Homo sapiens: one gene and its partner. The protein of the gene in region 2 interacts with the protein of the main gene of each other region in a pairwise test. Each region holds a gene or a part of one and is shown on either strand. Other genes may lie near its edges. The genes, in order: MMP9 and VCAN.

Region 1 (4,125 bases), on a different chromosome or scaffold from region 2:
GTGCTCTGAAGAAACAGGTCGAGAGGAAGAGGGTTAGCCGAGTACTGCTGCGCAGATTGTGCGCTGCCCAAGGCAAGGGCTCCGAAATAAGTGCGGGCTGAAATCCCGCCTGCGCGAAGCTCTCCCAGCCTGGCGCCCTGGCCCTGTGCACTGTCTGGCAGGAGGGGCCGTATAAGCCAGGGCAGCGCGGGCAGGCAAGAGGAAGCCGGGGCCACTGCTGCCTCCACGCTCTCCGTGGTCCTCCCTTCCCTGACCCCGCCCAGGTCTCTTGGATTTTCCCTCCTCACGTTCTCACCCGCGACACCAAACTGGATGACGATGTCTGCGTCCCGGCTGTACACGCGAGTGAAGGTGAGCGGCGTCACCGCGCTCCACAGTGCGAAGGCGCGGGCAAAGGCGTCGTCAATCACCGCCCGCGGCAAGTCTTCCGAGTAGTTTTGGATCCTGTAGCGTAAGAGCCAGAGGAAGGAGGTCAGAAGTGAAAGGCTGGAGCGGGGCAGCAGGGACACCCCATATCGCAGAGACTTCAACATACACAATGCTCTCTGCCGTCCACGCTCTCATCTATAAATTGCTTCCAGACTGTTTTTTTTTTTTTTTTTTTTGTCTACTTAGACCCTCACAATGGCCCTGGCAGGAGGACTTGGATTGCAAGAGCCATTTCCCTGAAGGAGAAACAGAGGCTCAGAGGTGGGGACACTCCCCAGGGGCCACACATTAAATAGTGAAACCCAGGGACGCGTCCAAGACAGGACATGTTCACCGCTGGCCCAAGAGCCAGACCTGGCCTCCCCGCCCCACCCCGCTGCCCCCACGGCCCCGGCTCACCAATAGGTGATGTTGTGGTGGTGCCACTTGAGGTCGCCCTCAAAGGTTTGGAATCTGCCCAGGTCTGGGACCCCGCACCGTGGGGTTCGCATGGCCTTCAGCGTGGCGCTATCCAGCTCACCGGTCTCGGGCAGGGACAGTTGCTTCTGGAGAAGCAGCAGCGCAGGCCCCAGAGATTTCGACTCTCCACGCATCTCTGCCACCCGAGTGTAACCATAGCGGTACAGGTATTCCTGTGGATGAAGGGACACACACATGCCAGATCTCTGACCCCTTTCTCTGCCCAGCTGGGGCCAAAGGACTCCCTCCAGACACTCATGGAGGGAGTCTTTTTTCTTTTTCTTTTTCGGAGAGACGGTATCAGCCCACTGCAGCCTGGACCTCCTGGACTCAAGCGATCCTCCCATCTCAGCCTTCTGCATAGCTGGAACTACAGGTGCACATCACTGTGCCTGGCTATTTCTTTAATTTTTTTGTAGAGACAGGATCTTACTATGTTGCCTAGGCTGGGCTCAAACTCCTGAGCTTCAGCGATCCTACCACCTCAGCCTCCCAAAGTGCTGGGATTACAAGTGTGAGCCGTCATGCCCAGCAGGGACTAACATTTAATAAAGCATTAAATGCTTTCCAGACACCAGTGCTTTCTGACCACCCAGGGATCTCCCCTCCTTAGACATCCTCAGCTCCTTCTCACCCCTGGATGCCTCTAGCCCATTTCTACCCCACAGCTGCATAAGGTTTGCCCCTGTTCACTCCCAGCCTATGCTTACCCCAGAACCCTCCAATGCCTCCCCCACCCCAAACCATTTCCCATTTCCCACCTAGGAAAGCCCCATTGCCCATTTCTGGCCATCACTGCTCAAAGCCTCCACAAGACCCCCCACTGCCTAACCCTGGACACCTCTGTTCTTCAGATACGCCCATCACCACCAACACACCCCTAAAGCATCTCCTCTGAGGCCCTGCATCCTCTCTGGGACACTCAACACCCTCACGGACAGCCCTCCCCAACTCTAGACTAGGTGTTTGCCCACCTCTGCCAGCTGCCTGTCGGTGAGATTGGTTCTCAGGTCTCCAGGGAAGAGCACAAGGGTGGACTGGCGCTGTCTGGGGGCAGCAAAGCAGCAGCCCAGCACCAGGAGCACCAGGACCAGGGGCTGCCAGAGGCTCATGGTGAGGGCAGAGGTGTCTGACTGCAGCTGCTGTTGTGGGGGCTTTAAGGAGGCGCTCCTGTGACCCCACCCCTCCTTGACAGGCAAGTGCTGACTCAGGGGTCAGGGTGTGTGTGTGTGTGTGTGTGTGTGTGTGTGTGTGTGTGTGTGTGTGGCAGCACCAGCATGAGAAAGGGCTTACACCACCTCCTCCTCTCTCCACTGCCCGCAGTCTCCACTGCCAAGTCAGGCAAGACCCCAGACCCGCAGGAAACCGCAGGCCCTCAGGGGAGGGGTAGGGTTTTGCAAACTGCAGAGCTTGTGGGAACTGTATGAAAGGGAGGGAGGGGGATGAAGCTGGAGGGATCCCCCATCCCTTGGTCTGAAAGCCTCCAGTGGTCAGCCAAGGGAAAGTGATGGAAGACTCCCTGAGACTTCTTTCTGAAACTAATGATCCCCCTGGCCCATCCTTGGCCTTTTGCAACACCCCCTCCCAGGTCAGATATCCTCCCCAAACCCCTCCCCACACTCCAGGCTCTGTCCTCTTTTTCCCTCCCTGACAGCCTTCTTTGACTCAGCTTCCTCTCCCTGCTTCATCTGGGGGCGGAAGGAATGGGCTCTGCTAGGCAAGGCTGGGGAATTCCACTGGGGCAACCCCCTGTCTTCCGCAGGCTGAATCTTCAGGGCAGTAAAGGGGACAGTAGCAGCCTCTAGAAAACAGCAGACATGGCTTTACTCTCTTCCTTCAGGACCTCGGGCAAATGTCTTACCACTTTGAAGTGTTTCCTCAGCTGTAAAAAAAAAAACGGGGGGTGGGGGGCTCTTTGTCCCTAAATTGATGTGAGGATTAAATGAGATCAAACATATAAAATGTTTAGAACACTGTAGGTTGTAAGTCCGCAACGGATGGTGGTGATTGGTTTTAATTACTAAGGCCAAGACCCAAGATTCAGGGCCAGGTATGGTGGCTCATTCCTGTAATCTTAGCACTTTGGGAGGCCGAGGTGGGAGGATTGCTTGAGCCCAGAAAGAAGGTCAAGGATACAGTGAGCCATGATTATGTCACTGCACTCCAGCCTGGGCAACAGAGCGAGACCCTGCCAAAAGACCATGATTCTAACTTGGAATCACCAAACCAGGTTATTGGGCTCTAAGCTGCAGTGTAACCTGGAGTAAATGCCTTCCCCTTTGTCAGCTTAGGATTCTTCAACTGCAAATTGGGGCAGGATATGGGGGAAAATAATCTATAGGAGCCCTTTCAGTTCTCCAGCCCTGCTCCATGCAGCCAAATCTCCAGCCCCAATTATCACACTTATGCCAAGCCTCCCTCCCAAGCCTCCCACACCAGCAGCCTCCCTCACTCCTTTCTTCCTAGCCAGCCGGCATCGGGCAGGGTCTATATTCACCTTCTTCAAAGCCCTATTTGGGAAAAACCTGCTAACAACTCAAAAAGTTGTATTTATTTATTTTATTTTATTTTTGGGGGGTGTAGTATCACTCTGTCACCCAGGCTGGAGTGCAGTGGCGTGATCTCGGCTCACTGCAACATCTGCCTCCCGGGTTCAAGCAATTCTCCTGCCTCAGCCTCCCGAGTAGCTGGTATTATAGGCGTGCGCCACCACGCCTGGCTAAATTTTTTGTATTTTTAGTAGAGATGGGGTTTCACTACGTTGACCAGGCTGGTTTCGAACTTCTGACTCAAGTGATCTGCCCACCTGGCCTCCCAAAGTGCTAGGATTACGGGCATGAGCCATGGCGCCCGGCCCAATAAGCTGTATTTAAAGGGCCTACTATGTGCCAGGCATTTTATATGCTTATCTAATAAATGAGACTGTGAGATGGAGATAATTAACTTCCTTTACAGAAAAGTTGAAGTTCTAAAGTTCACTAACCAATGAACATCTGCTTTGCAGTCACGAAGTCCTGGATTTCCATCCCGGCTCTGCCATTTTCCAGCTATGTGACCTTGGGCAAGTCACTTTACCTCTGAACCATAATAATAATAATGCATTTTTTGAGATTTACTGTGTCAAGCACCGTAATAAGTTCTCTATAAGCCTCTCGTTTCATCCTCACCACCTGTAAGGTAAGTTTAATGAGTATCCCTCCTGTTTTCAGAGGGGGAAACTAAGGCTCAGAGAGTTAA
Region 2 (3,600 bases):
GAGAGCCGAGTGGCCTCGCCCCCAGGATTCGGGGCCGGCTGCTTCTGGAGCTGACCCGAGTTCCATCCAGACAGCGCTGAACACTCTTATTAAAAGGCTATTTAAGTTTTATTTTATTTTATTTTATTTTTGCTTGCTTCTTGGGAGTGGTAGGAGGGGCATCGTGCTTTTGTTTTGAGGCAGGGGAGAGGTTAAAATTTACTCCAAGCAAACTTTTTGTCAGAAAAATGAGACTTTATACCGTATTCCATTTGTTGACTTTTTAAATACATTCAGGTCACTCTAAAGCCCATTCTTAGTCAATTAACAGATTAATTTCGTTCCAGACTGTCATAAAGAGTTCGCCTGGAATGGCAAATACTGCCATTCGACAAGACTAATAGAATTTCATGGGGGCAAACATGGAAGGGCTGCGAGTGTAACTGAGGTTCCTGTGCCTCAATGAGGAACCTTAGCGGGGACCTGGCGGGGACTGGAAGCTCAGCACCTATTTAGGGAGTGACTGAGCTGGAAACCTGGAGAAGCTTGGTGCAGACGAGACGGTGCTTCTTAGAGCTGCATTTTAAGTCCTCCCATTTTGCTGCATATTGGAAGAACTGGATTTTAAAGATCTTTTCCATCACCTCAGATTCTGTAGCTAACAGCCACGTCTTTTTCTTTTTGTCTGCTGAAAGCTGTGACCTAATTGTTTTAAGCACTTCTTGACAATTTCGCCAAACCCATCCTGAAAATATTCACATAAAGTCCTAAAATAGGATGTTGTGAGTGTAATATAAAAATAGGAAGGTACCAATGGAAGCAACAATTAGTGTTCTGAGATAGAAGCGGTTCCCAGTTTGTAACTTGGAAATGTTAAGAGCAGTACATCAGGGAGAAGGTCTCCAAGAGTCTGACTTCTTGTTCTGAGCTCTGAGTAAAGAAAGAAATATGTTAGAATTGTATTGTCTGCCCGCAGTAATATTGTAAAGGGTTCCAATGGATTCCAATGTGATTGAGCAATTACTTCCTCCAGCACCAAGTCCACAGTCCTTAATCTTCTTGTGAGAAGATTAGGTAGGAAGCGGGATGAGATTCAAGACAATCATTTAGGATTTATGTCAGAATTCAAAGTTTTGATTCTTTTGGTAGATAAAAACAGAGTTGGTTTTAAATTGTATTTCCTGCTTTCAAAAAAACGAGGTTTGAAAGGAATCCCCCTAGATTTACATAGGTTTACAGATGTAAGTTTCTTCTTTTTCCCTGTGTTTGCAAACTGGAGGGAGATGCCTTTGATATTCCAGAATACCTGTATCTATACACTTGTAAATTCTGCTAGGAAAGGACCTAAACAGCTAAACCAAAGGTGACCATGATTAATGTTAAAGATACTACCCATTGTTCTCTCTTTTGTTGTATTATTAGGCTTAAATACTTTGGAGTTAATGATTGGTCACTTAATTGAGTAACAGAGCCTTTGAGAGCGCAAAGATCAACTAACTCTGTCTCCCAAAGTCTGGCAACTAAGCCCTCCTTTCCTGGTGAGATTTAAACATTTTTGTTGACGTCATTCATGGACAAACATCGGTAAACACTGTATTTAAAATGGGATATTGCCCTGTGATGGAGCAGAACTTCTCAAGACACATGGTTCTTTTGAAAGAAAGAATTAATGACTGTAGTAAGGTATTTTTTCACCACCCACGTAGAGAAACCAGTTAGGACTGACAAACACTCATTGTTGGGAGTTACTTGCTCTGGTCTGAGAAAATATGCTGATTGTTACATAGGTCTGTATTTTACCAGAAAACACAAAGCATGTACTCTCCCTGATTTGGAATCAGAAAAGGGGGATTAGATATGGATGTCTTGGCCAAGCTCCATTTCAATTAGTGAATTTTTGCCAGTTTCCTCTTGTAGCCTAGACTTGGTAAATTACATATATATAAAGTCTGTGTGTGTGTGGGGGGTGCGTGTGTGTGTGTATGTATACAGGGTTTTTAAACACTGCTAAGTTCTTACCATTGAATGTGTTAGAGGTGGTTGTATTTCAGAGGTCAGTACAGAGAATCTTTGTTTAATGTGTCAGTTCTGTTTCCTGAAACACACCTCTGGGTAGATTTACCAACTATAAAAGGATACAAATGTATATACTTTCCACATCTGTATACATCCTACCTCATTCTTCTAAGGATTTTAAGAGGTGTTTATGTCTATAAAATGAGATTACATATTTTACAATAAACATATTTGATAAATTATAATCTTTTTATTATTAAATTATTGATTTGATATTACTTGAGGTATAGTGGAATGAGCACTAGACTTGGAATCAGAAAGTTTGAGTTGGACTCACTAGCTGAGAAAACCAAGCAAAGATATTACTTTTGGACCTTTAGTGTCATAATCTATTAAATGAATATGCAGTTATAAAGATCAAAAGAGTAAGTACTTTGAAAAACTATACAAAAAAGGGATGATAATATATTATGTCTTGGGATTCATATTGATCTAATTCTATAATTTTAATAATAACTGCATTACCCAAGCCATGTAGTTTCTACTGAATCTATAAAATAAATCAGAGAGGGGCATATTGTTTTAAAAATTGTTTAGTTTCATTAATCAGAAGACAGGTTACAGAAATTGACTCCAATGAAGTTGGACATTCAGTGGAAAGGAAGAATTATTCAATAAATGGTTTCAGGACAATTGATGGGTCCATGCAAAATAAGAATCAGTCTCTACCTGATTTCTCATCCTAAAAGAAATATAAGATGAATCAAATATGAAATGTAGGGAATAACTTTTTACAAAATGATAAAAGAAAATCATGGGATTAAAAAAAATAAGTTAGGAATAGAGAAACCTGTTCTAAGCAAAACATAAAACCCAGTGCCATTCTAGGAAATACTGATAGGTCTGACTAAGTAAAAATTACACAAAAGCAAATAATATATTTGGAAAACATCTACGACATTTGAGAGACAAAAAGCTAATAACTCTTGATATTCCATGGACTTTTATGAATAACTTTGAAAAGTCCACATCTATCAAAATATGAGCAAAAATTATGTACAGGTAGTGGCAGAAAGAGACATAGAGTTTTAAAATTATAGAAAAAATCGCTCAGCCTCATCTGTAATTAAATAAATAGTAATTAAAACACCAATGATATGCTACACCATTTTTTCACCAATCAGAGGAGTAACAAAAAAAAATAATTTTTTTCTTTTTTTTTTTTTTTGAGATGGAGTCTGTTACTCAGGTTGGAGTGCAGTGGCACGATCTCAGCTCACTGCAACCTCCGCCTTCCAGGTTCAAGCAATTCTCCTGTGTCAGCCTCCCTAGTAGCTGGGATTATGGGCACCCACCACCATGCTTGGCTAATTTTCGTGTTTTTAGTAGAGTGGGGTTTCACCATGTTGGCCATGGCAGTTGATCTTGAACTCCTGACCTCAAGTGATTCACCCACCTCAGCCTCCCAAAGTGCTGGGATTACAGGCATGAGCCACTGTGCCTGGCAAAAATAAAATTAAAAAGTTTGATGCAAGTTTGTGTTGGCCAGGTTGTGGAGAAACTGGGTCTCTCATATACTGTTGTATGAAAGTAAATAGGTTCCTC

What was found.
Region 1: the proteins of VCAN (region 2) and MMP9 interact in binary tests that used the Homo sapiens proteins (3 or more experiments, as listed by UniProt).

The regions. Positions count from the first base shown.
Region 1 is NC_000020.11:46,006,802-46,010,926, reverse strand, and holds the start of MMP9 (matrix metalloproteinase-9 preproprotein), read right to left. Parts: upstream 2,020-4,125; 5' UTR 2,001-2,019; coding exon 1,863-2,000; intron 1,062-1,862; coding exon 829-1,061; intron 445-828; coding exon 296-444; intron 6-295; coding exon 1-5. UniProt on the Homo sapiens protein: Matrix metalloproteinase that plays an essential role in local proteolysis of the extracellular matrix and in leukocyte migration. Could play a role in bone osteoclastic resorption. Cleaves KiSS1 at a Gly-|-Leu bond.
Region 2 is NC_000005.10:83,474,744-83,478,343, forward strand, and holds part of VCAN (versican core protein isoform 1 precursor), read left to right. Parts: intron 1-3,600. UniProt on the Homo sapiens protein: May play a role in intercellular signaling and in connecting cells with the extracellular matrix. May take part in the regulation of cell motility, growth and differentiation. Binds hyaluronic acid.